Homo sapiens: one gene and its partner. The protein of the gene in region 2 interacts with the protein of the main gene of each other region in a pairwise test. Each region holds a gene or a part of one and is shown on either strand. Other genes may lie near its edges. The genes, in order: NR4A2 and ODAD2.

What was found.
Region 1: the proteins of ODAD2 (region 2) and NR4A2 interact in binary tests that used the Homo sapiens proteins (3 or more experiments, as listed by UniProt).

Annotation. Positions count from the first base shown.
Region 1 is NC_000002.12:156,324,556-156,340,958, forward strand, and holds the start of NR4A2 (nuclear receptor subfamily 4 group A member 2), read right to left. Parts: upstream 8,167-16,403; 5' UTR 7,956-8,166; coding exon of another isoform or gene 7,925-7,955; exon of another isoform or gene 6,237-7,924; 5' UTR 6,113-6,236; exon of another isoform or gene 5,634-6,112; coding exon of another isoform or gene 5,632-5,633; coding exon 4,768-5,631; intron 3,979-4,767; coding exon 3,849-3,978; intron 3,460-3,848; coding exon 3,296-3,459; intron 2,366-3,295; coding exon 2,163-2,365; intron 1,774-2,162; coding exon 1,595-1,773; exon of another isoform or gene 1,592-1,594; intron 1,446-1,591; coding exon 1,189-1,445; 3' UTR 1-1,188. UniProt on the Homo sapiens protein: Transcriptional regulator which is important for the differentiation and maintenance of meso-diencephalic dopaminergic (mdDA) neurons during development.
Region 2 is NC_000010.11:27,995,594-28,012,297, forward strand, and holds the start of ODAD2 (outer dynein arm-docking complex subunit 2), read right to left. Parts: upstream 3,487-16,704; 5' UTR 3,401-3,486; intron 3,305-3,400; exon of another isoform or gene 3,210-3,304; intron 3,108-3,209; exon of another isoform or gene 1,898-3,107; intron 131-1,897; exon of another isoform or gene 56-130; intron 19-55; exon of another isoform or gene 1-18.

The DNA of each region.
Region 1 (16,403 bases), on a different chromosome or scaffold from region 2:
ATATCATGTGCCATACTAGAAATATACAAAGAAAAATACTACAGAATATGGCAATATTAAAATTCTTACTCAAACAAAATAATAAATTAACTGACAATTTTAGACATAAAAAAAATTCAAAGTGCTCAGTTATTTCCAGGGAGTTATGTATATTATAAGCACTCTGGAAACAGTCAAAAGCTGCTGCATGCAAGTTTTGTTTAGCTTTAGACAACAAAATAATCAAGATATAAACTTTCTTTTTATCAACATCAACGGTACATACAACACTTACAAACAAGGAATGTTGGACGGTGTTACAAACACTATGTGTCCCTTTTGTCAGGATTTTCTGATGTGTAATACTTGTGCCCACCTATTTTACAATTGAGAAAATGTTTAAGCTCAGATAACTACCAATCTTTATAAAATCTAACAGACTACATAGTGTCTGAAATACTATTTATATAATATAGACATTACTGAAGTAGCAAGTGCCTATAACATTTTCAACCTAGAATCAACATGCTTGTCCCTTTTTTATGTATTTATTTTCTTTTTTTTTGCAAACACACTTATCTTTTAGAATTTGTAATATTTATTCATAAATAGGCACAAAATAATTTAAAAAGCCAAACTGCATTGGGTAAATTTACAAGCCTTTGCCTTCTTCAACTCATGCCACCCACGCAACATTTAGTTTTACTATATATTACAGCTTTCTTTACAGCAGAAAACTTTGAAGTCTTGTTAAAGGGCAATACTTGTGGGTCCCCTTAAGATGTGTCTCTGTGTGTGTGTGTGTGTGTGTATGTGTGTGTGTGTTACATTTGTCTGAACTGCAACAACCAAGCATGGCCAAACATTTCCCATTATACATTATAGCAATCTTTCTTCTGAACAACAAACTGATTTTTAAACTGAGAATAAAAAGTTTATACCACTGTATTGTGTGTAGTCCATGTTCTAAATCCAGGATGCCCCGGAGCCAAAATGCCCTTTCAGGTTCTGCCTGCAGGTTAGGAAATAGCAACAGTTTTTGTTTGTTTGTTTGTTTTCTTTAGGGATCAAGGGGGCTAGGAGGGTTACAGAAATGGGGGGCAGCTTGAGCTGAGACTGCTCACACGGCTATCTCTGCCCATGTGACTTGCCCCCTCTTGACAGTTTCCATTATCATTCCAGTTCCTTTGAAGTGCTTGGGAGGAGGTCTTAGAAAGGTAAAGTGTCCAGGAAAAGTTTGTCAATTATTGCTGGCGGTGGCACCAAGTCTTCCAATTTCAGGTAGAAAATGCGCTGTAGCCCCTGTGTGCAAAGGGTACGAAGTTCTGGGAGCTTCCCCAACAGTTTGGACAAATAATTGGGGCGGTTCAACCCCCCATTGTTGAAAGTCACGTGGTCTTTGAGACAATTTACAATCTTGTTTTGCAGTTCTTCCACTCTCTTGGGTTCCTTGAGCCCGTGTCTCTCTGCAGAAAACATAATCAGAAACAAAAGAAGAATGTACAAGACAGTTAGCTAGTTGGCAAAACCAAGGAGAATCTGTGACAAGGGAAACTCAGGACAAATCCTGCTAGGCAGTTCTGGAGGGGAAGCGCCCTGCGCCTGCAGTACTGACCTGTGACCATAGCCAGGGCAGCAATGCAGGAGAAGGCAGAAATGTCGATGTTCATATTCTGCAAGTTGGAGGAGAATTCAACAATGGAATCAATCCATTCCCCAAAGCCACGAACGCATTGCAACCTGTGCAAGACCACCCCATTGCAAAAGATGAGTTTACCCTCCACTGGGTTGGACCTGCAATTAATACCAAAGAGAGAGAGGGGAGAAAAAGAGAGAGAGAAAAGCTAAACAACTAATTACTTGAAGAGCAATAAATGAGGGATTTAAGAGTCACCTAATTACTGAAGAGTTAATAAAATGTAGACCAGTGGACCTTGAAAGGGTTTAATTTCATAACAATCAAGAACGCCCCCTATCCCACCTCCATTCCATTCATCCAAGGCTTCTGGGCTCGCTTCTTCTCGTCTTTTTTTGTTTTCTTTCTTTTTCTTCCTTTCTCCGACTTCCATTTCCTATTCTGTCTTTTTCTCTACCCCACCCTCTGGTTTCCCTTCCTCCCTTTCTTTTCCTTTCTTGATTTCTCTCACAGCCTCCCTGGATTGTCTCCCTCCCTCCCTTATTACCTGTATGCTAATCGAAGGACAAACAGTTCTAAGAAAGCTGATTCAAAAAGCAGGTCTTGGTCGGCTTTGGGCAGGTCTGCGAAGCCAGGGATCTTCTCTGCCCAGCCCCGGATGATCTCCATGGAGCCAGTCAGGAGATCATAGAATTGCTGGATATGCTGGGTGTCATCTCCACTCATTTGATAGTCAGGGTTCGCCTGGAACTGGAATTTCATTTTAAAAAGCACTTAATGAGGTTCTCTAAAATATATAACCCGTGAAATTGCTAACCCCGTTTCTAATAGGGGAGCCAGGTTTTTATAACAATTAAACCTCTCTCTGACCAGTAAGGAAATTAGATGTTCCGGGGCAATTAATTCAATTAGGGATGGTGCTACGAGGTCGCTGCTTTAAATATGTAAATTGCCATTTCCATACAGACTAAATACAGTGCCATCCAGCCCTGGGAAACGTTCACTCTTATCTCCACAAAACAATTGACATGTTAGTATTCATGCTAGTCCCAGAGTGGGCCTCGAGCTGAGACGCCCTTTTGCAAATCTTAATAAAATTGCAGTCCCTACCAGGTTTGCTCAACATACTTCCTCCAATTAAAGCCCGCATATTTTTCACAGCTGGAGTAAAAAGGATCTGACCACTTGATCCCCCACCCCACTGGCATTCTTTACACCCTCTCCTTCCCTTCCCTGACCCCCAGACAGGCCCCCACATCCTTCCCCAGCACAGTGCCAGGAAGGATGAGGATTAAAGCATCTATCTCTATGGAGGACTGGGAATAAAGTAGATTGGGAAGGGGGAGAGTTTGCACAGCCCCTGGATTTCATGGTAGAGGCACTGGTGTATATGGAAGAGGAGGGGCGATGGGGTAGTGGGGTAGTGGGAATTCACACAGCTTCAAACCCTGTGGCGTGTCCCTCTCCTCCTTCCTCCATCCTGTCCTCATGTCTATGCCCCCAGCTACATGGATTGTCTGAAGATCTGAATCTTGAGGCCCTGGCCAGAGCTGCGAGGCATATACAGCCTTGCTTGCCTTCTTTACCCCCGTTGAATCTGAGAGTTAATGACGGATGTGGGGAGGGGTCCTGCCCATCTGTCGGTTTGTCCACATGATATCCCCCCCGCCAGCTTCTTACCCTGGAATAGTCCAGGCTGGTCATAGCCGGGTTGGAGTCGACATGGGCCCTGACGAGGGCACTGATCAGACTCACCGGGGGCGAAGGGGGAGAGGGCTCCTGTGGGCTCTTCGGTTTCGAGGGCAAACGACCTCTCCGGCCTTTTAAACTGTCTGTGCGAACCACTGCAAAGGAAGAGCCCTGTTAGCGCCGCTTTTCCGAGCCCAGGCCCAGCTGCTGCCTCGGTCCCTCCCCGGGGAAGGCCGCAGCCGCGGGGCACCAGGCTGAGCGGCTGAGGGCCCCAGTGCTTGTAAAGCCTTCACTGACTAGAAGCATTAAAAAATGCGGGGTTATTTTATGTCTTCCTCCAAATGGGTCGTATAGTTAAAGGAGAGAAGGGCCTGGCGGCTTTCTCTAGGGAAGGCCGGGCAAGCAGGCAGCTGCAGGGTCCTGGAGGCCATACTGAGGGGGAGTCGGAGATCCCCAGCACCGGGAAGTGGAACGTGATGCTGGAGTATGAGCAGTGGTTTCCTAAAGGCGCAAACTGGAGGGTCGGCAGCTCCCCTCAGCCTACCTTCTTTGACCATCCCAACAGCCAGGCACTTCTGAAATCGGCAGTACTGACAGCGATTCCGGCGACGCTTGTCCACTGGGCAGTTTTTATTTGCTAAACACACGTATTTTGCATTTTTTTGCACTGTGCGCTGCAAAAGGAGACAATATAGACCAACATTTTTTTTCTTCTTTTGAAAATCAGGCAACTCGGAGAAAATTTCTGTTATGTGACTGGGGTCTACGATTCCTCCCCACAAACAAACACATACACACAATTCCATTTTATTTTTTTCTCTTCCTTTTCTTTCTTTCTTTTCTTTTTTCCTCCCCCAGGGCATTTAACAGAAGAAAATTGATAGCGTTAACATTTGAGCTAACCTTGCCGCTCCTTGCTGTGTTTTATATGCCAAGAGAAGGAGAAGGAGACGCTCAGTAAATACAAATCCGTGGGCATTCATATTATTTACATTCCTTGGAGACCTTCTCTATTTAAAATGATAAGATTATTCAATCAGGATGGCGAAATAAAGAGATCACTTAATTTGACCATAGGGAATTCTGTTCCACTTGGTTAGCTCAGACACGGTTCTCTGTCCTAACCAATTTCATTCTGAACAGGGAAGACAGCTCCTAGCACATGCAAATGACCCTCTTCCAACTCCGGCTCCAGCAACTTCGGGCGGGGGCCAGCCGGGTCGGCTGAATGCGAGGGGGATGCGACCCTGGCCTCCCAGTCTTTCTGCTTCCCTTTCTCAGACACCCGGAAGTCCCCGCCGCAGCCCATGGTCTCCTGCAGGGCAGCTTCGGCGGACCCCGGAGAGCTGGGCAGTCCCGGGAGAGCTGGGGCTGGGCTACTGGCACCAAGGCAGAGGGCACACTCCGAGGTCCCGGGCACTAGGGGCTCCCTACCTGCCTACTCCGCTCCCGCCATTGCTCACCTTAAAGAAGCCTTTGCAGCCCTCACAGGTGCGCACGCCGTAGTGTTGGCAGGCCGCGTTGTCCCCACACACAGCGCACAGCCCCTCGTTGGAGGGGGAGCCCCGCGACGGCGGTGAGGGCACCTGCGTGTCGAGCAGCTGAGACGCGTGGCCGATCTGCAGGCCCGGGAAGCCCATGGACGCGGGCTTGCGAATGGGGTTGGGCACAGCGAAGGTCTGCCCGTCCACCACGTGGTGGCTGCCGGCGGGCTCCGGGTTCATGGGGACGTGCAGGGGCCCGTCGAAGCGCATCTGGCAACTAGACACCGGGGTGCCAGGGGGCGATTGCTTAAAGGAGAAGAGGGAGAGGCGGGAGACTGGCGTTTTCCTCTGCTCGATCATGTGCGTAGTGGCCACGTAGTTCTGGTGGAAGTTGTGGAGAGATCCCGGGTCGTCCCACATGGGGCTGTGCTGCACCTGGAAGCCCGGGGTGGTGGGCGTCGGGGGCGAGGAGGGCTTGTAGTAAACCGACCCGGAGTGCGGCATCATCTCCTCAGACTGGGGGGGCAGGTGGCTGTGTTGCTGGTAGTTGTGCATCTGAATGTCTTCTACCTTAATGGAGGACTGCTGTCCGGACAGGGGCATTTGGTACAAGCAAGGTGGCTTGACGTCGTAGCCTGTGCTGTAGTTGTCCATAAAGGTACTGAAGCTGGGGAGAGAAGTGGTGGCAGTGATTTCAGTGTTGGTGAGGTCCATGCTAAACTTGACAAACTCTGGAGTTAAGAAATCGGAGCTGTATTCTCCCGAAGAGTGGTAACTGTAGCTCTGAGAAGCGGGGCTGGCTCCTTGAGGCGAGGACCCATACTGCGCCTGAACACAAGGCATGGCTGGAAATGAAACAGGGTGATAACACACTCAGCCTGGTCAACTGAACACTTTCTCCCGGGCTCGGGTACACCTGGAGCTACACCGGCAGCCCGCGGCAGTCAGAGAGCATGTAGGGGCGCGAGAGGAAAGGCAGGAGAGAGAGAATGCTGCAGAACAACAGTTTAGGGCGTGGAAAGACTAACCAAATAAAGACCCAGAGCTAAAAAGCTACTGAGGGTCTACACTCCTGGGTATTTCCAAACATCTCCCTCATACCCCCCCACTCATCCCACTCAGATGAGCCTCTTCTCTGAAGCTCAGATTCAGCAGTCTCTTTCTAGAAATGACCATCTAGAAATGAAGTTGAATTTCACAATGAGAAAGTTGTTCCCGAAGGCGATGGGTCGGGCAAACCTTAAGTTACAGGGTTTGCCTTGTCCTGTTTCTTGATGTTTGGGGAGCTCTGGAGAGTAAAGGAAAGAAATGAAGTTGCACTAACCTTCAGCCGAGTTACAGGCGTTTTCGAGGAAATTAAAGGTGGACAGTGTCGTAATTCAATGAAGGACAAAGTTTCCAAGATTTTTAGAAAAGCAATGGGGAGTCCAGCCTGTCCAATCTCCTCCCTGAAATACAGACACAGGAAGCTTCAGGGTTTCTTCCCGACAGAGATTCAGCTGGGCATATGTAGACTCACCAGGCAGGCCCTTCCATGCCTTCCCTGTTTGTCTCATTGGAAATGAGTGGGAAGCCTTTACCAAACATAGCACTTAAAATGAATGTATAAAAGAAATGACTTGAAACAACAGAAAATACCACCCATTGCACTGTGTAAATCCTTGCAGAGAGAAGATCCTGCAAGAGGAAAGCTAGTCCATGAACTCATTTAACATTTATGATGTAATGAACTGGCCCCTTTGCTACAGTGTAGGTGGAGAGGTCATTTCCATCTTAGGTTAATTCAGGACCTGAGTATGAAGACTAGAGTATGAAAATACAGCATTGGAACCTTCTCTTGCATTTTTTTTTCTTGTGGTGAAATTGCCTTTTCTTTTGGTAGAGGGGAAGAAAGTAGAAGTCAAGAATATAAAATGAGAAAACAATCTTCCCCCTTACAAAATGTTAGAAAGGCCTTGACTGAGAAGGCAAGTTGAGTGGAAGCATCCGCACTTCTAAAGTGCTTTTGACAGAGCACTGGGATTGGAGCTACAGATAAATTGATGTTCACTTTTCCAGAAAACTTGTCTTTCAGCATCTTTAATGGTCACAAGGCTTAATGGTCACAAGGTGGGAAGAGGGGATCTACTTTTCCAGGAGCTTCTTAGGTCAATTGCAGAGGGGGGACATACTGCTTATATGGTATTGGCACCAATATTAGAAGTGTTTCCCAGCACAGCAAGATGAACACCTTCCCCATAATGCCTTCCACAATCTGCCTTTCTGGAACAAGGCATTCTTGTGTCCTAGCAATTTTCAGATGTTCCCACTTGGAAGACATTCTAGAGCACAGACAATCTTATTACTAATGAAAAAAGAAAGCCAGTATCCTCTCTTTTTATTCTTTCCCCTCCCCCACAATCTTGCTTCATAGTGGTGGTGGGGGTGGGGGGAAGATTACCCAGAAAAAGCAGAAAGGAGACTCGAACCCCACAGCCCTTAGAGATATTCCTGTGTTGGATATTAACCCCCTGGTAGCTCCACAGTTTCATAACTGTACTCTTTACATATTCATATTCTCGCTCTGATACATTCGCAAACCCAAGGACAGCATATGTCAAAACCAGAAATTTCAGGCAACTTAGTAACAGGACACGCTACCAACACCACCCTTACTCAACAATACCCGGGAAACATCGCGCGCTGGCCAGCCGCGGAGACACAGTTCCCAAGCAACGCATAAACTGAAGAACTTCCTCTCCCTGTCAGTTTGTGGGCAGCTTCCCTCGTATACATAGGACTTGGAGTCTCCGTGTTCACAGGCCACAATCAATTCCTCACTAACAGCAAACTTTGCGCACATTTCCGCGGGCTAGTCCTCAGCTCCCAAACTGTGGAGTCTCCCTTCCACGTCCACCAATGAGGAGCCTGGAAACCTCTGTCGAGAGCCAACTCCCCACTAGTGCCAAAGCCGGAGTTCGAACAAATGCCCCCCGGTAACTGCGCGCACGCACTCCCCATCCTTCGGTCCCACTCTCACTAGAAGCCTCTGGCTCCCACTTCCAGAGAACCTGTCCCACACAAGTGGAAAGAAGAGACGTGCAAAAGAAGGAAAAAGCATAAAAGAAGGCGAACTGCATGGGCTGCATCTACTCACTTAGGAGTTCTCCGCGTCTGTCTTCATTCATTCAACTCTGCCGAAGTGCAGTTCCCTCTGGGAGCCCGGGCGCCGGGGTCGGGTAGGGGTGGGAGAGCTGGGCGAAGGGAACCCGGACACCTCACGGAGGGAGGGAGCAGGGACAGGCGGCCGGCTGGACAGGCAAAAGGGACCGCGGAGCCGTGCGCGAGCCGCCGGGCGGACTGGCCCTGGCCGCCAATGTGCCTTTGTTTATGTGGCTTGCGCTGCCGCTGCCAACATGCACCTAAAGTCTCCGCGCGTCAGCGCGCGTCAGCGGCCCGCCGCCCAATCGCCGCGCTGCCGCGCTCCCTGGACTCCTGGCCCGCGCTCGCTTTGGTATATTTCCGACCTGACGTCACGAGCAGGGCCGATTTTAAGGTGGGAACCGCTCTGCGTTCACCTTGGTAGCCAGCTTGGGTGGTTTTTGGTGTTTTTTTTCTTTTCTTTTTTTTTTTCCGAAAGAGGTGTGACCTCTCCCAGGTCTGCGCAGCCCGCAGCGTCGCGACACTTCACTTTCCCCGAAGCCCCTGCGCCCGCGCAGCGGCTCGGCCGCTCACATGTGGGGAGGGTGCAACAAAAGCACCGGCGGAAGGCAAGGCCGGCGTGGCCAGGTAGTACGCACCTGGAGCCGCACGGAATGGGATGTGCCTTGCAGCGCCCTAACCTCTCCCACCCACCTTCGTCACCCCCTTAGCGGAAGAGCGTACAGATGTCCCATGACACGAGACGCTCAGAGGGCTCACGCAGTTCGGGTGGGATTTCCCTACCCGGTTCATCCCCTTTTACTCCCTTTTCCTGTCCCAGGCCTCCTCCTCTTCTGGCATATATTCATTCTAATTATCTCTCTCTCTCACTCTCTCTACCCCACCCCCACCCCCCACACTCCCATCTGAAAGGGAATGGGAGTGGGGGTAGGGCTTATTTTTCTATGTTTCCTTATTTCCATGCAGTGCCCACGTTCGATGGAGGACGTGGTGCTTGCGGGGGGGGGGGAGAGGAAGGGGAGAGGGTAGACAGTGACCGTGACCCAGCTCTTTAGAAACCCCAAAAGTCAGAGTGAAGCGTCGCCCCTTTTCCTTTCGCAGACAATGCAGCCGAGCAGCAGGCAACAGGTGCGCCTTCTGCAGAAAGGTACTCTGATTCCCACCTTCTGCAAACTCTAATACTTTCGATACTCCTCTGTGCCCACCAACTCGTACCCCTTCCACGAGTTTTAAGGGAATAAATCGATCTTCGTTTGAAACACAAGGTCTATCACAGCCTCAATCTTAGAGCCCAGAAAGACTGGACAAGAAAAGCGAAGCGGGTGGGGATTGGGGGCAGCGTCTCCGCAAAGCGTAAGGTGTGAGCCTACAGCCCAGCCAGGAGAGGGGCCCGAGCTGGCTCTGGGAGCGTGTCCCACCCCCGCGGCCGTCCAAGTCGCCGCCGCTTCTGCTTTGCAAGTCATTTCCCCTAGCCACGCCGAGAGCGCAGGGAGCTTTCTAGCAAAGGAAACGCCGCAGCTCCGGAGGGCAAGCCCCCTCCCCGTCTCCCGGCCGGAGCTGGGAGGGCTTCCTAGGGCTTCTCCCGCGGGGCTTCCAGCGGCTGGGCCTTGGGAGGGAGAGTTCGGAGCCGCCCCCGCTTTTCTACTCGCGCAGAGCGTCCCAGCCGCCCCTCCTTTCTCGGTGTGGCTCGTTTCCAGGCAGCCGGGACCCTTTTGCAACTTGCCCCCCTACTCGTGTTCTCAGTACCGGCCGATGGCTCCGTGGAACTATTCGGGATCCCGGGCTGCTCAACCCTAATCTGCAGCCCCGCCTTTGCCTACTCCCTGCTGCCCCCAGCTCGCCGGCGGCTGGGGAGGCGTTGCCATCAGATGCCCTGCGGCTGCCCCAGGAAGCCGCGGGCTCTTTTGCGCCGCAGCCTCGGGGAAACCTACGTGACCACCTTAAGTTTCCCCCAGATGTTGCGGCTGCCGCTGCTGCTGCCGCCGCCGCCGCTGCTCGGCGATGCCCTAGCGGGCGCGAGAAAAAAAATAAAACCAGGAAGTGGGTGGGGGGGGCGGGTTGTGGTGGCGGGTGAGGGTGTGTGAGTAGGGGGATGAGGAGGGGAGGGCGAAGAATAGCATATTAGCATGAGCTCGGTAGCGTCAGCGCCCCGTGGGCAGAAGCGATTCCATGCGAACGAAAGGGAAAAAGTGAGAGTTTGGAGAGCTGGGGAGAAGGAAGGGGGTGGGGGTGGCGGTGACGCAGGGGCGCAGGCATTGACGCACCGGCCAGGCTGGGCCCAAAATAGCAGCAACTCCAGCTCAGAGGCGCCCTCCCGGGTTCCCTTCCCCTTCCGCGAGGGAGCAGGGCGCGGCCACGGGAAGCTTTCCTTGATCCCCGCGGTGGGCCAGGCTCCCGGCCGCTATTTTCAGGCAGTCGGAAACTCAAGCACAGGCACGCCGGGGTGGCAGTTATTATTTTTTAATATAGTCCTAGGAAAACGGGGGCCGGGAGAACTTGAAGGTTGTAACCACCAGCCTCCATACACATACTCCCGTCTAAGTAGATACATTCACTCTGCACGCTTCCCCCTCCCTCATTGCCATTAAAAACACATTCAGTTTAGGTTGGGTTGAGCCTGGGACAATTTGAAAATGCCTCCCCAGAGAGCTGAAAAGTGTCCTGGAGTTCTTAAAGTGAGCTCCAAGGAAGCCAAACATTGTAATATGATGCCTTATTCTTTAATAACAACCTGTCGAGTGCGGCTTCCTGATAACAGCCTTTGTCCAAGTCTTAATGCAACCAAGAATGAAGGGTCGTTTTCACAGCAGCTTATTATAACAATTATTATTAACTGGGAATATAATTAAATATAAAATTAAATATAAATTAAAATGAGAGAAAGGGGAGACCTTTCTCATCTATTCCATCATCTGTGTAAGAGTTCTCTCCTCTTCAAAGTCCTATTCTGGTTTCTGGGAAGCTTTTACTGTTTCTTAGGAAGACACGCCGGATGTAAGACTGTTAAACTCGTTTAAACCAATTTTGAATAAGCTACTTCTTAGGCTAGGGTTTCTGTAAGGCCCGGATGAGATGGGTTGGAAAGGATTCAGCATATAGATCAGAAGTGTTTAAAAAAAAAAAAAAGGCCACGCTCAAAACCCCAGACTAGTTTTCCTCACCAGATTCTGATGGGACGATGTCTCAGTAGCACCGCCAATGTGTGTGTAATTGACTGATCCAGTCAGTAGGGGGCCTGACTCCACAACGTTCAAGAGAATCACTCACACACACACACACACACACACACACACACACACACACACACACACACAAGCTATTTACTACCTAAGCTAAACCAAAGAGAATGCTGCAGGCCCAAATATTCATATTGTGCTGGAATTCATAAATAACTAAAAATCTTTGATTCTCTTCTATTTTCTCCAAAAGGGAAACAGTTTTAACACATGGGATTAGGTTCACAAAAGATTTTCTTTATTTCCTCCTGCTCATGCTTAACTCACTGTTAGGTCACAGAAGGAAAAAATCAAACTGGTAATAAAATCTCTCATTTTATCACCAAGAAGTTCAAATTGGCATACAGTTTGGAAAAATGAAAGCATGTTTTAAAATCCTATGATTACATGTTAAATAAATTATAGTTTAGAAGGAGATTCCTGTGGGTATATTTGCTAGTACATAAGAGAATGCTTTTGTGCATAGAGATTTAATTACACATATGGAATCAAAATGTAGAATTGAACAACCTTTCAGAAAATGTTAAAACGATGCTTTAGGCTAAAAGAAACTGAAATTCTGCATTTATATGACTGTAACCCTTCAAGATTCTTGAACATAAATAGTTCAAATAAAGTATTTTATAACTCAATTAAAATGACAATAATGGCTTTTTCAGGCCCCCGCAGCCGATATAACTTTAAACTATTGCCATGTATAAATGTGTAAAGTTACCCCACAATGAAGGTCTATTTTCTTAACAGTTTTTAAAATGAGTGGGAGTAAAAATTGCACCTATCCTCTTTTGAAACCAACTAAAATAAATTAAAAAGCATTACTATTAAGAAACACTATTGGATGACCACAGAAAAACATTTAGGAAAGTAATGTTACTATATTATCTTTTATGACATTAACCAATATTAGGCAGAACATATTGGTACATGTAAACATATTTTCATTAAAAATCAACATAAATAATACATATACTCACATCTAAACCAAAGTAGTTTATTTTATGCATGGCTAGGCAGATTATACTTAATAAAATTGAGCTTTTGGCATAATTTAGAAAGCAAACATGAATGTAATCCCATAGGATTTTCTATTTTAATGCATAGGAAAGAGGCCTTTAGGGATTTATTTCACCATTCTTCCCAAATGAATTCAGAATAGACCTTACAATGCAGATATAGTGAAACAGACATACCTGTTATGCTTTACGAGTTGAGGCAACTTTAAGATTTTTCATAATAAAATTACTTTGTAGAACCTATTTTTAGCATTACAAGATATATATTTTAAATTACATTTGGACAAACTCATTCACAGCATTTGTTGCCATTGGGCAGTAAGTCACATTACTGATACAAGAAATAAATTTTCACTTTGAAAAAAATCTGTTTCTGAAAATACAAAATTAGTTTTTACTTCTGAAAGTGTTTTTATTGTTTTGCTTTTGCCATTTCATTTGCATTGACAGGATAGTAATTGACCAAATTGTTTGTTCCTTTCTCATAGGATGGTTAAAGAACAAGTCAATTGCTTTGTTAATATTCACATTTTGGATAGTTGTAGCTTTTATTCAGTATTTCTCAGCCGATTTTTACCAAAAACCACTTAACACAAATACTTTTAAAATTATTTCTTTCTTTGATACAGAACTCAGTACTAGAAATGTGTAAAGATGTGCAGAAAAAAAACAGCATTCTTTTTTCTGGAAGCATCTTCTTGTAAATTGAAATTATAAAACTGAACATATGGTAAAACCTCATGCCACTCAAAAAGTATTTTGCATAATAAAAATCCTTCATTTTTTGTTAATACTTGACACCCAGTAACCATCTCCTAAATACTTGCTTTTAAATTAACCACTTAATATTTTCTTATTTAAGAACTATTTTTTATTAGGCAAAGAAGAATAACTTTGGTTTTAGATTTCATTGCTAATTTTAGTAAACATAGGCATCACTAAAATGTACAAAGTCCTAAAAGACAGTTTAAAGATTATGAAAATAAGTTGCTACATGCTAAGAAAACATCAAATATCTGCAAATTCTAAAAGTAGTTAATAGCATTATAACACTACCAGTATTAGATAGCATTTATTTAAATTTAGATAAAATACATACATTTTGCAAGTTTTTATATGTAAATCACAAGCTGGCTAGTTTTTGTTCTATCTTTAATGATAAAATAACCACTTTTGATTTTTTCCTCAGACTAATTGGTGGATGGAATGTCTCAATTTAATTTTAAAAATGAAGGTATTGATAATATTGCAACAGAGACATATATGCCCTTTTTCTCATCAGAATTCTGCAATTATCAAGCCTACAATTTTAACACTACAAAAGTAACTTAAAGCAAGGACCCTTATAGTGATAAGTAATAAATCTAATTACCATATCCTTTGAATAGATGTAATATAAATTTCATTGCTCACTTAAAAGTTCTAAAGTTAACAGCATAAACTTGAAGTTGAGTAATTAAGTAATCCTTATATAGACACTTATTAAAGTATTTATACATATTATCTTAAATCTACATCTATCATTTTGCCAATTAAAATTAGGACTTTAATTGCAATTAAGTAATTTAATTGCCAATTGAACAGCAAAATTGCTAAGTGACTAATTTTAATGCCTATTTTAATTACCAATCATGACTGGGGAGGGAGCTAATCAAGTTACATCAAGCAGCACCAGAGTAATGATGTGAAAAAAAAAAAAAGGGTAGAACAAACATTCAAGGCTACATGCTTCAAAAAAAGAAACATAAATTAAATAAATGCAAACACAATCCTATAAATGTATAAAATACTGTATTTCAATATCTCAATACAGAACATGAAAGGAAACAAGATTAATTAAAGAAACCCCTGTCAATCTTCAAAGTAAGGACAACCAAAGTCAAATTTTATATGGTATTTACATGGCACCCATGCTAACCCAGATAAAAACAAAAGCTGTATACAGTCGAGAATAAAAGGCTGTTTCCTGCTTGGCTGGTTAAATATTTACAGACTGGCAGTTAAAAAAAATTCTTAAATGAAATACCATAAAACAGAGAAACAAGTTTCCAAATGCAACAACGTGGATTTTGCATTTGAAAAGCCAACAGGGCAAGTGCAATGGGGCACTATACTCTTTCCTGGTTGTTCCTCTCAGCCACACTCACTTGAATGAAGAGTTCTATGAGAGGCCTAATGCCTATCCATAGCTGTCCCATGTTACCCTGAGAAAAACAGACACCTGGCCAATCTTAAATATTTTAAATTTATTCGGGAGTAAAAATAAGAAAGCGGCTAGGATTACATCACAGTTAAAATTATTTGGCATGGGGAATATACCTAATTCAATAGTCATTCTTCATTCAGTTAGAATAAACATGCCCACTCAAGATAAAGGCTGAAAACCAGCAGGCAACCAGAAACACTGGTGAAATTTTTCTTGGACAACACAAACATATTTTCAAAAGTTTTCATATTCAGACTAATTCTCAGATTAGCAATATGGAGGGGCACTATTGAAAGGAGGAGGTGAAGTTGAGAACTCAAAAAATAGAAAGTGATTCCCTGTAGATAGTAACAATTCTAGTACTTTCTGACTGTAGGGTTTCCCTTGGCAGCCAGCCACCTCATTTAGAGTAACAATGGACATCCATCAAATCTTCATTTAAAATAAAAGTCATGCTGCAAGATACATATTTTATTTTTGTTGCCATATATATATACCAAAAATATACCTACTTATGTCTACAAAAGGGCCCAAGATTATTAATGAAATATATGTAAGCCTATAACTTGAGGAACAGCAAATCGTGCGGCTTGGGATTTTATTTACTAATGGACTTCAATTGTGAAATGAAGCACAGCAGGACTTTCGGCCTGGCTTTTGAAGAAGGAACACTTTAATAATCACTGGGCCTGACAAGACTGCAATATCTGTTCATGACAATAACAGCTTTATAAAGCAAGTTCTGTGTGACTGATTAAAGGACACACTCACCGCCTATTCACAAGTCATGGAGATGGAGTCATTATTGACAAGCTCACCATCACTACTGATCACATTTAAGACACATCGAGTGCTGGTGCTACAAAGAGAAATAAAACCTCAGCCATTAAAAGATTTAAAAAACAGCCCCAGAAGACAAGATTGCCATAACTTATGTATATCTTAATGTGTTCTGTATAAGATTTTCTCCTATATACACACACAAAGGATCTTATTTGATAATAATTATCAAAATTATCGAACTAAAGCACTAGGTAACAAATCAGCCACTACAAAGGAAAAAAAAAAGGAGAAGCATCGTCTTATAATTTCACAATAATTATGAAAGGACATGATATATAGACAAACTTTCAAAATGTTAACACTTTCCGAAACTTGACATGACTGAAAGTAAATACTTTTTCAGACTGTTCATGTCTATCTTAGGCATTCTGCTAGTCATTAGTTTACATGAATTAATGTTTACATAGTGCCAGAAGCAAAAAGTTTTAAAAGTATGTCTCTACCTTTCAGATATCCCTTAGTAGGTAAAAGTAAACATAAAGTTTAGAAATTCTAGTAAGTTATTTTACTTTTTGCCCTTAAAGTATTGTCTTCCCGTGTGATCTATCTGTATTAGTGAATAGAAAATAAAGGATACAGTAAGACAACCACGTTTATAATCTGAAATTAAAGGCAATCAATTAAAACATTTTATTAGTCACCAGGATATTTAAAAATGAGACCTGTGAAATATTGCAGAATCACTCCACTAGGAGAGAAGCAGCAACTTAAGTATGCTGTCACTGACATGTTGGGAGGAAAAAGCAAACTACCAGTACCACCATGTACATGATTCAAATTAAGCTACATAAATAGTGAGTGCATGGGGTTGTGGGTACAGAAACTGGTTCGCTGAGGAGGTGCTACTTACATTTCCTGTATTTCATATTTCTGAGAACTGTCTTCTGTAATTTCCAAAGTGTAGGAATGGTTGAAGTTTGAAAATAAATGGAGAATTTCAAATAGTTAATGAATAGATTTAGGAGCTATACTGAAACAACTAGCAGAAAATACATTTTCTGGAGTTCTTTAATTTTGTACGCTTAAAAGTATGGTGTTCCTAAAGATGGCTAATTCTTGTTGAAGTAAGTAGCTCTGGAAGTCATATTTTCCATTTCTCCATACTTCATCTATTAATCAGTTGACTGGCAATTTCCGACACCAGTTTTGCTAAACTTTATAAATTTTGCTTCCTCC
Region 2 (16,704 bases):
CACATTGTTTAGAATTACACTATTAAACTGAATACTGTTATCCCGACTTTCTTACAGTGACAATATCTGCATCATCACAATGATGACTGAAGAACATGATTCTGGTAGCTCTGGTTTCCCCAAGTGCATTCTGAGTTAAAAAAGAAATAGAATAAGAACAGTATTGTGAAATATAATTTTTTTTCTAAAAATTGATACAGGACACATTGATCCTATTACCAGAATATCTGGACAATCCAAATACTATTTTCCCTGCCTGTATATCCTGCCCAGATGACATTTTACTGTAATTCACAACCTTCTTAAGAGTTAATGTGAGAGATGTAGGAATAAGTGAGACTCTTTCAGCCTTTTTATCTAAATTAGTTATCAGAAGAGTCTAGCAGTAAAATTTAAAACCAATTCAAGTGAGACAAATTTCACATTGGCTAAATAGAAATTAGTCTGTAAAAGAAGATCTTTTAAAAAGTAACAAAATCTGTAACGTTAAATAAGAGCCAAGTTAGAAAGCACGTTCTGACTTCATAATGAACATTTAATGCTTTTTTGGCAGATAATCTATACTTGTTTCTTTTCTCTTTTGTATAGCACTTATTGATAAAATCTTTCTTCCAGAATATTAGAAGAATGGTTATACGGTTAAATATAGAATAAAATTGGCTTTTTACTCCCATCATTATTAAAAAGGCTTAAAGTACAAAGATTAGACTTGGAGATTTTACATTCTGTACTGTATTAAATCTTTGAACTATCTATTAAATTCAATCACAGGAGATCACTGGATGGCAACAGGGCAGTACTTCCTGCTGATAAAGAGTATAGAAATATTATAGAGATGTCTAGTTATCAACATGATAGGAAAGGGGGCATTATCGGCCTTTAGTGTTGAGGACCGACAATGTAAAATATCCTGTGCAGGATAGTACCTCAGAAGGAAGAATTCTGCTGTAACCTCCAGGCATCTAGTAAGTGAAAAACTTCAGATAAGCACTACCTGAGCCTAGAATTTTTCTGCACTTTGCAAAAATTGCAGAGTATTTTGTCACAGTTTTATTACACCCTGAATTTTCCAGAATTGTAGCTACCATAAACGAAAAGAAGGTTGTACATATTTTGTTTTACATGGAATTTTACCAAGAGCTCAGCATTTTGGAAAATGACACCATTGATGGCAATGTTATTTGAGAAATTTAAGTTGCAATGGCACATCTGTATCAGTCTGCATTTGGGGCTGCTGTGTTCACAGTCATTCTGTGTAAGGCTGGACATCTGACTACTTCCCTATATATTCTAGTGTAGTGGTACTTGAGCGTTTACATGCCAATCTTTTCTTACAATTATTTTCTTTCATTTTACAGTTAGCACACTATCAATATTTAAAACTATATTAAATATGTAAGATTATAATCTATGATATTGATTTCAGGATAGCAAAGCAGCCTTACAACATATATGCTATAAAAACCAAGTACTGGATCAGATAGGGTGGAGAACAACTGATCCAGACATATATACCAAAGTGGTCATGAAATAAAGTGCAGAAATTAGTGCACAAATTTGTTCTGGGTGTTTGTTTTAGTATTCTAGCATTTTGTTTCTATTGCTAACCGATGAGAAATGCTTTAGATTTAAACACATAAACATGTTCTGATGTGTATGTGTGAGACTCTTGAATTTCCCATTGTTGTGTAAAATAAGTGCAAATCAGTGTAAAATAGTGTGAAATAAGTGCAAATAGCTTTATCTTATACAGAAAGGCTTAGGTGAAAGTTCTGTCTGTCTTTAATCTTAAGTATAACATTTGTTTTGGTAATCTTATAAAGATTGCTTCTTGCACATTTTTAAAGAAAAAATGCGAAATTAAATAGATTATGTAACGCTATGGTAGTCAACATACCATATAGTAACTTCTTGAAGGACCCTTAACACAGAATTAAGAAATGCAAAATCGTTATTTTCGTCAAGATAAATTTTGACAGAAATGTAACATTTGAATCTATTCAAATTGTATTTCCAAGTCTAGTGAACCGTAGCAATGCACAAGTTTTATTCAAGAAGGTTGGTGAGTTTAAGAAAACCTCAGGGTGGCCTATGACAATCCAGAAGGCAAGATCAATGTTATTAGAAAATAAATAAATAAATAAATGGTGTTCAAAAATGGTCGGCATAACTCAAAACTAAGATTTTAAAATCAAGACCAGTTGCTCCCCGGTTTCTGCCCATTGCCAAGCTCTTTTGGCTTAAGAACCATAGTTAAAATGAATCCATGTAAATACACAGCACACACCTTTGAAGTAAAGAAAGTAAGTTTAAAGATTAAAAGGAAAAAAGTTTTGGTTACGTGTTTACATAAACTGGGATGTTTACATAAACTGGGAATCACTTAGCACTCATTTTTCTCTTTATCCAATAGATACCACAGATTGTTTTTCTTTCTAAAGGTCAATTTCAAGCTTCCAGCATCATTAGTGAAATGAAACCCATTCGGTAATCACATCGTTAACACTTAAACAGAAGCACAACCGAATTCTTTAGGGGGCTACGGAAAGGCAGCCATCAGCTCTGAGATCTATGAAATGTGGTTGGTAACATCCACGGGGAGTCCGCGCATACACTGCTTTCTGAGAATGCAGAAGTTACTCAGTAAGACCGACAGAAAATCGAACTTTTAGACATGACATGAACAGGGCCCTAAGTAAAACCAAAGCTAAGCCTAGTGTGGGATGACGGCCCCCACCAGACTCGTTACAAGAAGGGGGCGTCAGAGCTGAGACCCTAAGTTTCCAGGAATGGATTCGGTAAGGGGACGAGGAGGGAAGGGACGGCGAAAACCACGCTGGGAGCGGGAGGCAGAGCTGCAAAGGGCGGAGGAGAAAGACGGGCTGGGGGAAGGAGAGGCAGGGAAGCGGCGGGAGAAGTGGAGAGCGGATCCGGGAGGTGATGGGGCCGAGGTAGTGCAGAGAGGGGCGCAGGGACTGAGGAGCAGACGGTCCCCAACCTAGGGCCGAGGCAGGGTCTCGCGGGGAGGAAGGAGTGAGATGGGGCTGGGAGAGAGAAGGGAAGGGGGCGGGTCTTGGTCCCCGGGAGGGAAAGGGGAGCAGGCGAGAGCGGCAGCGGCGGGGCCAGAGAGCCGCCTCTGTTTCCCGATCCACGCGGGCGGCTGCAGAACCCCTGCGGGGGTGAGCGTGGAGACCCCCAGCCGCACTCACCTGCAGCACCCTGCCCCCCGCAGTCGGCGCCCGCCTGTTGCTAGGACGCGGGTCAACACTGCGCGCCCTGCGGCCGCGCACGCCGGCGCCCTTGTGGGAGGCCTACAGGGCCCGTGCCCTCCCCCGGGCGCCGCCGCCGCCGCCTTCCGCTCCCAGCCTCACCCGGCCGCGACCGCAGCCCAGTCCGTTACCCTGGTCTCGGGACCTCCGCGCATCCAAGATTCCCGCGGACCCGTTGCACCGTATGCCCGCGCCAGAGACGCTCTGCGCCCGCGCTGGGTTCCACCCGCCCCGGCCACCTGCTGCTTTCCGCTCGGCCCCTCCCGGGAAACACTTTTATTCAACTTTGCATCTCCCTTTCTCAAACACTTTTATGCAACTCCCGAGTGTGCACCCTAACTCACTCCACGCGGTGGGAAAGGTTGACTTTGACAGAGGTCGTGAGCAGTTGCGGGGTCGGCGGCAAGTTAGCAGAAAACTTAAAATGGAGCAGAAAGGAAGCAGAAAATATTCCTTAGAAACCCCTTTTTACATTTTTCCATAGGCTTCCAGACAAGTGCGTTGTATGTACCTGAAATCTTCACTGAGTACCCCCAAATAGCATAGGGCTTCTCCTAGGATATTTGAGGCTTACATGTTTCTCTCCAAAAAAACAAATATGGTAGAATACTCTGATACTCACCGGGAAAGCAGAAAGCGCTCTTCAATAGGGCAGAGGATCGGAGTGAAATGAAAACATGTCCCCCATCTCTTTTTTTAAATGGCCTTTACCTTTGTCCATTAAGATGGTTTTGACCCCACCTCTAGACACCCTACCAGCAAGAGCCCCAACTGGAACACCAGTGAGGGATAAAGGAGTGGGAATATTGAGGTGGGGGGGGATGGGGAAGAATGCACTATCTTGGGGTGGGGGGACACGGTGTTTAAGGACCAATGCCGGAGCACTTAGGATGATGGGGTGTTTAGGAATTAAAACTGGATTCTTTTCCGGATGCCAAAGAGGCAAATGTGGAATGATGTTAGGATATCACCTGTCATAATATTATACGGATTCAGCTCAAAGCAGAACCTTTCTGCAAACACGTAGGGATATGAGGTATAGATATTTGTCCTTTGTTTTGGGTTTTTTGGAGGGTGGGGGACGAAGTCTGGCTCTATCACCCAGGCTGGAGTGCAGTGGCACGATCTCGGCTCACCGCAACCTCTGCCTCCCATCTCGGCTCACCGCAACCTCTGCCTCCCGGGTTCAAGAGATCCTCCCCCCTCAGCTTCCTGAGTAGCTGGGATTACAAGAATGCGCCGCCATGCCCGGCTAATTTTTGTACTTTTAGTAGAGACGAAGTTTCACCATGTTGGCCAGGTGGGTCTTGAACTCCTGACCTCAAGTGATCCACCCACCTCGGCCTCCCAAAGTGCTAGGATTACAGGCATGAGCCACCATGCCTGGCCTGTTTTGGGTTCTTTTCTTCTCTTTTTGAAAGTGCGAAAGTTGTTAGGAATGGAATAGTTTCACCTAAAGGAGATACTACCTGCAGAGAAGCTTAGACTTGCAACCAGTGAGAAAGGGGCTTATGCTAATAGGTATACAGAGAAGCCCTTTTAAAAATGGGTGGATTACAGTCTGAGACAACAGCATCACACCTGTGGCGGTAATGCAGGTCACAACCTGGTGAGGAGCAGAGGGCATCCTTCGGAAGGATCCTGGAGTAGTCCCAGTCCTGGAAGCAAGGAAGCTTCTGTGGGTACTTTAGTTCCTCTGCACATTTTAATCAGCTGTATGACATAAGGGAGCATTACTGGGTCCAATGTGGATGCCAGCCAGAGATCTTCCAAGTTCAGGACATTTCACCTTGGTTTGCAAAGCTGGAAAAAGCCAGAACCCACCAAGATCTGAGCAACTATGTCGTTGTTTGCCAAATTCATGCCAAGTTGCTTAATCTGATGCCAAAATGTGAATTTATTTTACCGGATATTTTCCAAGCAAAAATAACTTAATAATATTTAAATCTGAAGAAGTCCCAGTCGCCTCTTTCCAATTTTTCCTTGTCGTGATGAAACACTACCTGGGCCCAGTCACTCCCTGAAGGATTTATCATGACTTGTTTTTTTTTTTTCTTTTTTTTTTTTTTGAGACGAGGTCTCATTCTGTCACCCAGGCTGGAGTGCAGAGTGCAGTGACATAATCATAAGCATAGCTCACTGCAGCCTCTGATTCCTGGGCTCAAGTGATCCTCCAGCCATGGCCTCCGAAAGCACTGGGATTACAGCCATGAACCACTGTGCCTGGCCATAACTTGTCTTTGCCTTGTTGCCCATCTGCTACCCCTACAAGGTAAGCTTTATGAAAATAGGGAGCTTTTCTGCCTCCTTCAAGTCTGTACTCCTAAGATCTAGAAGGATGACTGGCACGTAGAAGGAGCTAAATTCATGAATCGCCTAGTCAAAGATGCCTTGCTTCCTGACACTCTTCACCAAGCACCAGAAAGGCAAGGCCCACATTTTCTTAGGGTTAATAGAACCAGCCTGAGGATTCTAAGTAGCCGTGATCTTGGAAAGAGCCTTCATCACTGAGGGCACACCCGGGGTTTGCTGTACCAGAGGCCTTTACCAGCCCTGCCCATGGCTAGAGTGCAAGCACATGGTGCAGCGCTGTCCACTGAAACTTTAGAGAAAATCTGCCACAGGCTCCTGGGAAAAACTTGATAGTTTTTGGTCCACCTCCGCAACATTACGTCATCTACAGCAGGGACCCCACCCACACGCCACACCTTCTGTCAGATCAGCAGTGGCATTAGGTTCTCATAGAAGCATGAACCCTATTGTGAACTGTGCATTCGAAGGATCTAGGTTACAAGCTCCTAATGGGAATCTAATGCCTGATGATCTGTCCCTGTCACTCATCCCCCCCAGATGAGACCGTCTAGTTGCAGGAAAACAAGCTCAGGGCTCCCACGGATTCCACGTTATGGTGAGCTGTATAACTATTTCATTATATATTACAATGTAATAATAGTAGAGATACAGTGCACGAGAAATGTAATGAGCTTGAATCATCCTGAAACCATCCCCTCCCCCACACCCTATCCATGGAAAAATTGTTGGCCATGACACTGGTCCCTGGTGCCAAAAATGTTGGGGACTGCCGATCTACAGGGATTCTTATGAAACCATCCACCCTGGCTTGGGCAAATCTGTTCCTCTCATGTATCAGAGAGTTCAGACACAGATTGCACACATTAATTTGCTAGGGCTTTTGTAACAAGGTATCACAGACTGGGGCGGCTTAAATACCAGAAATGTCTTATCTCACAGTGCTGGAGGCTAGAAGTCCAAGATCAAGGTGTTGGCAGGATTGATCCCTTCTGAGAGCTATGGGGAATGAATCGATTCCAGGCTTTTCTCCTCAGCTTGTAGATGGTTGTTTTCACATTCATATGATGTTATCCCTGTGTGCTTGTCTCTGTACACAAATTTCTGAATTTGAGACAGGACCTAGGCTAGAGTGCAATAGTGCAATCACGGCTCACTGTAGCCTCGACCTCCCAGACTCAAGTGATCCTCCTGCCTCATCCTCCCAAGTAGTTGAGACTACAGGCATGCACCACCATACTCAGCTAATTTTTGTGGGCTTTTTTTTTTTTTTTTTGTAGAGATGGGGTCTCGCCATGTTCCCCAGGCTGGTCTTGAACTCCTGGGTTCAAGTGATCTGCCTGCCTCAGCCTCCCAGAGTGCTGGGATTATAGGTGTGAGACACTCCTCTTGGCTTATTTCCTCTTTTTTTTATGAACACCAGTCATATTGGATCAGGACTCACCCTCATGAACTCATTTTAACTTGATTACTTCTATAGAAACCCTATGTTCAGTACGGTTGCACTCTGAGACACTAGAGGTTAGGACTTCAGCATACGATTTTAGGGGGACACAATGTCACACATAGCATTATGTAAAGATGTGATCAGCAGGCTTCCAGCGCCCATTCATCTGTGTCAGAGTGAAGCCGACTAAGAATTTATAGGCCATAACCAGGGAGAAAGTAAGAGGCAAGGTTGGTTTAAGCATCCAGTACCTCAATCAGGAAAGGACTAAGACAGATGAAATAAACCTCCTGAGGTTTGCAGGGAATTACAGTCATTTATATTTTGTCGTAATGGGGGTAAGTCTCATTATAGGGCGGAATTGCCTCTCTGTGGAATTTTTTAGGAGTTTTCAACAGAAATTCCCATGAGAGAAAATTGCATGAAGTCTTACGAAGTCCTAAAAACCAAATTCACCAGATTCTACCCTCTCTCATAGATAAAGACAAAAAGTCAGAGAAGTGCAGCCTCAGCTGCCTCCCTTTGCCCTCTGATATTTCTCAGTGATGCATTGTGGACCAAGGCCCACGGCCTGGAAATGAAATGGCTCCTTCTCCTTAGATTCTAATCTCCTAGACATTCATTTACTCAATAAATGCTTTTTGGATGCCATTTTGTGCCAGGCACTCCATTGGCAGAACTCGATTATCCAATTCAAGTCCTAGCCAAAAAAGGAGCCTACTAAACTCAACTCAGAATTCCTGGACTAGAAGGAGAGCCACTGGCATGAAGCACAGTAGCAAAGGAGAGAAAGGAGAAGAGACTGAATCGGTGGGAAGGACTGCATGAGGTGGAACATTTAAGCCATGATAACAATTGAAATATTCTTCCAAGAATAAATGAAAGTTACTGGAAGATTTTTAGCAGGGAGTGACATGCTCCGATTTCTCTTGTTAAGAAGCTGTTCTGATTACACAGTGGAAGTAAACTAGAGAAATGCATGAGTAGAAAGAAAGAGACTATTAATAAGACACCTGGCCTCAGGTTCCCCTGAGAAATAGACTCTGAGATAGAGAAGGGCATGTAAGAAATGTATTGAGAAGTGCCCTCAGGAGAGTGAAGGCAAGGAGATTAGACCGAGAGAGAAGCTGAACTGCCATGCAGCCACAACCATCCCACAGAGAGCCCTGAAGCTGGGATGGCCCAGCAGTTTTCCCATATTGAGGCAAAGGGGCTGGACCTTTAGATCTTCTCATCAACTGATCATTATCAGCCAGTCCCTGGGTGCAGGCTGTCCCCAGGAATAGGGCATAACCTTACTCTTTCATTTGAGGGCTATCATCTGCCCATAATCCCCAGCAGCTGAGGGCAGGAGTGCTTTGGTCTTGGAGAGGTGGGATGGGTTCAGATATCTTGACAGTCCACTGCATCCCCTACTGTCCACCCCTTGCACAGCTGAGATCACTAGCATCATGCAATACAGCTCTGAGAGCGGTATCTGGGAGCAGCTCTTCCGGAATCCTGGTGGTCAGCTTTCCCTGGGGAAATTTACAAGTGAAAGATGAGACAAAATTGCAAGCCCTGGCTCTGCAGTTGGTCTCCAAGCCAAAACGTATCCATTTCTGCCCTCCTTTTCTGCCCATTCCAGATTCCCTGCATGTTTCACTAGCACTTTTGCTGATCTAGATGGTTTCCTTGGTGGGGGTGATCCTGACCCTCACTGCTGAGTTTCTGGCATCATGCCCTTCTCAGGTGGTGACTACTCTATACCTTTACCATCAAAACTGGGAAAAGACATCCTTACCCCACTTTGCAACAGCAACCTCCCTCTTCCTGATGATCCAGGGCAGTTTCTTCTATTGGGATCATGACTCCTTCACTTGCCTTTTTGTCTCTTGCGTAAAGAGTCCAAAGTTATGAAATAGCCACCATAACTTAAAGTTTTATGTCCCTTGGTGGAACATTCTCCTCTAGGAGCCATGACCTCTAAATGTGCAGAATAGGCTTCAGGTTCACTGGATACTGAGTGCATGGGGCCCTGCAGAGTGTAGACTTAAATCCAAGGTCATGGTAAAACATCTGAAGTTCATTGCCAGGACTATGATGGTACAGGAAGGGCCGTGGAGGGTACAGGACCCTCAAAGGAATCCTCACTGTAGATGGACTCATTGAGGACATTAAGCATCGGGGATACCATCAGGGGTACGATGAGAAGCCATGCCGCTGTTGACAGCAGGAAAGCTATGAAACCTGCCGGCAGTCCTACAGCAAGAAATGACTCGCAAGATCAGATTCCTGATGCAAAAGAATTGGACAGACCTGCGTCAGGACTGCTGAAGCCTTTGGATAGGACTCCCAGCATGAAAACCTTGTCCAGTTTATGTCTCCACCTGTTTTCTTTCTACAACTCTATTTTCTAGTACCTTTCTCTACAATAAACTCAATCACTTATATGCAAGAAGGCCTGCACATAGAGAATGATCCCATTAGCCAGCAGTGCTCCTTTTCTTTTATTAAGTGAAAGAAGAAACTGAGTCCAAAAGTAGTCTAGGAGTACAATGGTGTTTGCCAGGGACTAGGAGAGGGGGCAGTCGGGAGTTATTGTTTAATAAGTACAGAGTTTCAGTTTGGGAAGATGAAAAAGTTCTGGAAATGGATGGTGGTGATGGTTGTGCAAAAATGTGAATGTACTTAATCCCACTGAACTGTAGACTTGAATGGTTAAGATGGTAAATTTTACATTTTTACTACAATAAAAATTTTTTAAATCTTAAGAAAATATAAATGTGCAGAGCCCAGATCTGTGGTGACAGGAAGCACAAATTTTCCCACATGATGGGTAAACTTGGCCACTTATTCCATCTCTTGGTTCTGGAACCCATGCAATTTACCCTTAGGAGTCATAGCCCCATAGAATGGCTGTTGATTTGGGGCATATACTGCAGCCTGTAGGATGGCACCCCACCCTCATGGGGCCCCACTATCAAGCTCGCATTTCAGCCACACCTCCTAAAAGGCTCCATGGCTCTATTAGGGCAGTAGCCAACAGTAGAAACTGGGAAGATCTACTACTTTGGAGTAGACCTAAGTGCCCCTTCACTGAAAGTGTTGAGACCGGATGACCAAATATAAGAAGAGATGTAGAAGGCAACAGGGATGGAGGCTATGCATGGGTCCTTCTTGCTGACACCAGTCTGACCAATGCCACTGATAGTTTCCAGTCCACCAACAGCAGAAACTGACCTTTAATATGGCACCATTCCTGGAGAGACCAACTGGGGCCTGGTAGCAGGTCAATTACATCATATCCCTTCTACCTTGGAGGTGGCAAAAAGCTTCCTCCCTACTAGGGCTGACACGTCTTCCAAATGTGAGTTTGCCTTCTCTGCACACAGTGCCTCCGCCAGCACCACCATCAAAATGTCTGCATCATGGGAGGATCGCTTGAAGTCAGGAGTTTGAGACAATCCTGGACACATAGTGTGACCCCTTCTCTACAAAACATTGTTTAAATAGCTGGGCATGGTGGCACATGTCTGTAGTCCTAGCTATGCAGAAGATTACTTGAGCCCAGGAGTTCAAGGCTACAGTGAGATGTGATTGCACCACCACACTCTAGCCTGGGCAACAGAGCAAGACCCTGTCTTGGGAAAAAAAAAAAAAAGCCTGATTCACCCACATGATTACCTCAGATTCACCACAACAATGTATACCTCAGAAAAAGAGACTCATTTGAGACATCAAAGATGCAACAATGAAAGACATGGAATCAACCCAGATGCCCATCTGAGTTGGATAAAGATGGTTGGATTGGATAAAGAAAATGTGGTACATATACAACATGGGATACTACACAGCCAAAAAGAAGAATGAAATCATGTTCTTTGCAATTGCAGACCATTATTCTAAGTGAATTATTGCATAAACAGAAAACCATATAGCACATGTTCTCACTTATAAATGAGAGCTAAGTATTGGGCACCACAGACACAAACATGAGAACAATAAACACTGGCAATTCAAAAATGGGGAGGGAGGGGGAAAGGGTTAAAAAACTACCTATCAGGTACTGTGTTTACTACTTGGGCAATGGGATTATTAGAAGCCCAAATCTTAGCATCATGCAATGTATCCATGTACCAAACTCTTACATGTACCCTCTGAATCTAAAATAAAACAAACAAAAAGAAAGATACAACAATAGGCTCGTGACTGTGACAGCCACCAGTCTTACCTTGGACCATGTCACCTAGAGACAGTCAGCCTGATAGCACGGAAGAATGACACATTGAGGGCTCAGGTAAGGTGCTAGTATGGCAGAACTCTTTTTAGGGCTGGGTCTCCATCCTCCAAGATGTGGCATATGCTCAGAATTAACAGTGGATATGTGATACGCAGTGCTGTTTTCCTTCATTGTTAGAATTCCTAGGTGTGCAAAACAAGGAGTGAATCTTCTCACCAGAGCTCTCAGTGACCTACCTGCTTAGGGAATTTGAGCTTCCAATTATCACTAACCTTGGGCTCTGCCAGACTAGAAGCTCTACTTGCCATGGGGAGACTCCATCCATCAGGGAATAGATTAAGGGTTCCATTGAACTTAAGGCTGTTACTACCACCTGGCTACATTGGGCTCCTCATGCAAGTAAACCAGCAGGCCAAAAAAAAAAGGGGGGGAGTGGGGGAGTTATTACACCCGTTAGGTCATGATTGGCCATGATTGCATGGGAGCTAGGGTGCTACCATCAGGAAAGAAGATGTTTAGAACCCAGGGACCCTGAGAATTCACTTCATTGCTCCTCCATGGCTTACAGTAACCACAGCATGATCAAGGCAAGGCAGCTAAGGGCTCAAACCCCTCAGAAACAGAGATCTGGGTCATCCCATCAGGCAAGCATCCCAGACCAGACAAAGTGTCAGCCTGAGGGCAAAGGACATTTATAATGTGTGATCACTTTCTTCTTTCTAGCTTGTCTTCACCATTTCCTACCTGGGGGTTCACTCTAACCCTTTGGGTGAAAAAGAACAGGGAAAGAAAAAAAAAAGGAACAAGGAACCTGTTTAATTGTCTGGTCCTGCCATAAGCTAGCTTTGCATTCTCTGAACAAAGCCGAGGCTGGCTGTCCCTCTTGTGGGTATTTTTCTCGGTTCTTCATAAACCTTGCCTGGTTGGTGTCCTTTCCTTTGTGTTTTGCTCCAACCCAGAACAAGCTTCTCTATTCTGGCTGTAGTCTTGGGAATCTGGCAGTTTACTGTCTGCTGAGGTCCTATAGCTGCCATCCCACCTCCATCTCCCCCAACCAGTGAATTTCCCTTCCCCCACCCCAACAGCCTAAATCTGATCCATGGGATGTACTCACACATTATTTGCCCAGCAAATTCTAGCAGTGCAGCTCGATGCCATCACTATAGAAGCTCTCTTGTTCTTTTCCATCAAAGCCACCAGACACAGCCTGTCTCTTAACCCCAAGAATTCTCAGCTGGGAGTCAGACACTTGTCCACTCTGTCCTCCCCGACCCCCAACCACACAGGACATATATTTTGCCCTCTGAGTAGTCCCTTGAAGTCCCTTTTCTCCCTTCCCCTCTGAATTGATGTTGGGGGCCAAGAGGGCAGTGAGTAGAGAGGCAATGCCTTGGATGACTCTCCAAAGAGCTCCTCCCTGGAAATCCACTCATTTCCCTTCTATAACTTCAGTGTGAGTGAGTCAGGTAATTGACTTCCCAGTTATAGCTTTTACAGTTTTGTATCTTAGCCTTGTACCCCACTGTGGAATGAATTGTCTATTGTATCTTGAACCAGCGAAACAATTCTAACATCCTCTTTCTTAGGTATACGTACAAACTGTGGATGGTTACACAACAGATCAATAATGCGTATATATATTGCCTTAGGAAGTGAATGGATGGGGAAGAACTGTTAATTTTTAAATTTATTTTCCTCTTTATCTTTTAACATGTTAAAATGAGCCTATGTTCCTGTAGTAACAAAAATTAGGATGGTATAAGAGACAATGAACGTAGAACCTATGAGTAAATTTAAATTTTATATATAATTAAAATTAGGCCATATATCAAATATCCAAGTATAATAGGTTATTTCATATATATCAAACAAAATGATTTTGGTTCTGAAATAAAGCTGTAGAATTTCCTTAAACATTTTGGCTTGAAGAAACTTCATGAAGAAAAAGTGTTCTCTCCAATCCTTATGTAGTATTTACATGTAATGCAGTTGGCTGGCCTTCTGACTAGGAAACTTGGGCAAGAAAATGATCAAAATGACTGGAATCTCAAATTGAATTTTGGGGGACAGGATAAGGATGTTATGAGCTTCAGTACTCTATTTAAAAAAAAAAAAGGAAATAAATCCAGGAAAGTATATTCTGTACTCGGTTTGGTCAACACCTCTAGAAATGATGAAAGTGGTCATGGGCTCAATGGTGTTTTAAACCCACGTGCAACATTACGAAACTTCCAGTCAAATACAGTTATTGTGCACATCCCAAAAGCCCACTAAAATGACAGTGGGGAAAGAGAATGGGAGGAAGGAAGAAATAGACAAAACATGTCAACAAAATGTGAACAATAGAAAGCAAAAGTATTAAACTAGCTTAGCAGATCAGAGAGAGATGAAACCTAAATGCTCCAAGGGGTAAAAGCCAACAAAAATATGTTTGTGAATCAGACTCTGGGAAGACTTAGAATTTCCAGGCATCTTTTTCTTTTTCCAGTTAACTGCAAATTAAATTTTCTTTGCCCAATCATCAAGTTTGACATAAACAATTTTGATATTTACAAAGATTCTTTCATACAAATCTGTCATAATTTCATATTGCTAGACATTGAGTTTAGTTGGTTTTTATTAGCAATAACCCAGAAATGAGTATATTTATTCTCAAATATTTATTATTATTTGGAAGTATATGATCCTAGAAGTTGAATTGGGTCAAGGGACATAAATACTTCTAAAGTTTTTAATGAATTTCACCAGATTGCTTCTCAGAGTTTTCGTCAATTTGTTCTCTATCTTCAGTGTTGGATATTTTTTTTTCTCACCGTGAACTATCCAGCACTGAAGTAGTCTTCTGAATTTCATAGCTCATTCTTGCTCTAATTTGAATTTATTTGGTTGTATCACTGGTAATTTATAGCATTTCAACGTACTCTTAATTTTAGTATTTTGTCTTCTGTAAATTTTCTGTTCACACTTTTGGGAATCATCTCTTACGGCCAGGATAGAGGTGGGCTGAAAACAGGAAAACTGCTTGAAAGTCTTGTTCAAAGGGTAGCAGAAACCCATTTGTATTCTTTTTCTCATTAGACAAGTTTATAACCCAGGGCACCAGGCACAGCCATGAACACTGTACTAAAACAATGGGCATGCTGAATGCTGAGAGCCCCCTCAACCCCTTCTCCTGGTCACCTTCCTCGCACTAGAAACCCAGTATACATCAGCAGGCAGATCTGAGACTGACCAGCCTGAAAGCAAAGATCTATAGGTGCTCACATATAAGAGTCTTTTCAATCAAATATGCAAGTCTTGGAATAGGGCAAGTGTGTGGGTAGAGTGGGGAAGGAGTGATGGAACAGAATTATACCATCTTCTTCCAGAGTAAGAAGTCAATGATAATCTCTTAAAAAGAAAAATCAGAGCTGGATACAATGGGACATTCCTGTAATCCCAGCACTTAGGGAGGCTAAGGCAAGAGGATTGCTTGAGCCCAGGAGTTCAAGGCTGCAGTGAGCTATGATTGCACCACTGCACTCCAGCCTCGGCAACAGGGCAAAATCTTGTCTCTTAAAAAAAGATTAAAATTAAACAAAATAAAATAAGGAAAACAATGGCAGTTTAAGCATGTAATTTGGAAATGTAGAAATGTTTGAGCAATGCTGAAGACAATGGTAAGAGTTGTCGTCCATCACTATGACTTTCAGGAAAAGAACAATCAGGAGCAAATCAACTTCTCAAGAAGAACCAGCATCAACCACTTTGTAGAAGGCTTGCTCTCCATTATCCAGGCTGGGCTAATCATCACAAAGGCTTAAATAGATTCAGTCCTGATGAACACAGACCGTCAAAGGAGCTGAAGCTTCTGTGAGAGTCAAAGACAGCTACAACAATACTGCATAACAAACTGCCCCAAAACTCAGTGGCATGTGTGTATTTATGCTCACACTCCAGAATCTATAGGACATTTGGAGTTTCAATTGCAGTTTGGCTGATCTAGGCTGGGCCTGACTCAGAGGCTCTGCCTCAGGCTATATTTCTTCTGGGCTTGGTTGCAGGTTGTGAATCTGCTCCACAGGTCTCATTCTGGAACCTAGATTCAGAGGCGTGACTACCAGTGACATGTTCTTATCATGGTGGATCACTTCCATGGACATTCCAAATCTCTGATTGCATCATATCCACTGACATCCCATTGACCAAATCAAGTCATATGTCAAGCCCAAAGTCAAAGTGTGAGGAACTATTATTTGCCAACCATGAAGCCATGGCAAGAGTGTAGAGACATGACATCACTGTGAGAGAGTGAAGAAATCATTGAGACCAACAATTCAATCTGCCAAAGCACCCTTCTTCATCATATCATTCATCATTTATCAAATATGTTCTGATCTTGGTCATCATTTCCATTATATTACCATGGTGGTTTGGTCGCTTTATCCTATTCCAGCCTCTTAGCAAGAATATCTAGGATGAAGAGCAGAATTAATGACTAAGTGTACGAATTTGCTTCTTTTTTATGCAGTTATTTAAAATATTATTTAATATTGTTATAAATCATTGTATTTAAACACTGTTTTATTCTAAGCTCTCTTTTTTATCTAAAAAATAAATAGGAATATATTTTACTCTTTAAAAATGTTTGAACTCATTGTATGTCAAGTGGAACTTTTTCTGGATTTTTTAAAAGTCGAAACACACAGCAAAATATCTTGGAATGTAGGGAAAGTTATTTGATATAGAAAATGTGTAGTCTAGCCAAGAAGTGATTACTCCAGAAAACCTCATGGAGGATAAAGGATTTAATGTGAGACTTGATATTTTGGAAAAACAAACTGAGGATTAATAATATCCGGGTGATGTCTCCCAATAACACCAAAGGAAACACTGAAGACGTCTTAAAAGAATGGCTTCCAGATGCCTAGTAAATCATGTGTCCATATACCAAATGAGAACATGGCTAAGGGAGAATGTTTCTTATTTTGAGAAGGGATGCATTCTTTGGGTGACTAGTAGTATTTTGCACTTCAACTTTGTAATATTATTAAAGAGATAAAAGCCACGGGCATTATCCTTTTCAAATAATGAAATGATGAATAAACTATTTGCAATGAAAATCAGTTTTACCATACAATGTGATTTATTCATAAGAACATAAGTAAATCAGGGTTTATGGTGAGATGATTTGTTTATTTCACTGACTGGAATATAGTTCAAAATCTTGTACAGTGGAAGGAGGATGACTGTAAAAAGGAAGGTAGAACAAGAAAACCGGGATGACGCTTTGCACACAGGAACGTTCTTAGAAAAAATTTTTTGAAAGAACTGGAATTTGGAAATTGATTTCCCGTAAACCATCTTATACCCACATACCCTTTGAAAAAAATTCATGTGTACGTCAGTTTGGAGGCCACTTACTTAGTTCATTGATAGAGTTCCCGTATTTCTATGCCCTTCGAGGTCTTAAGTCA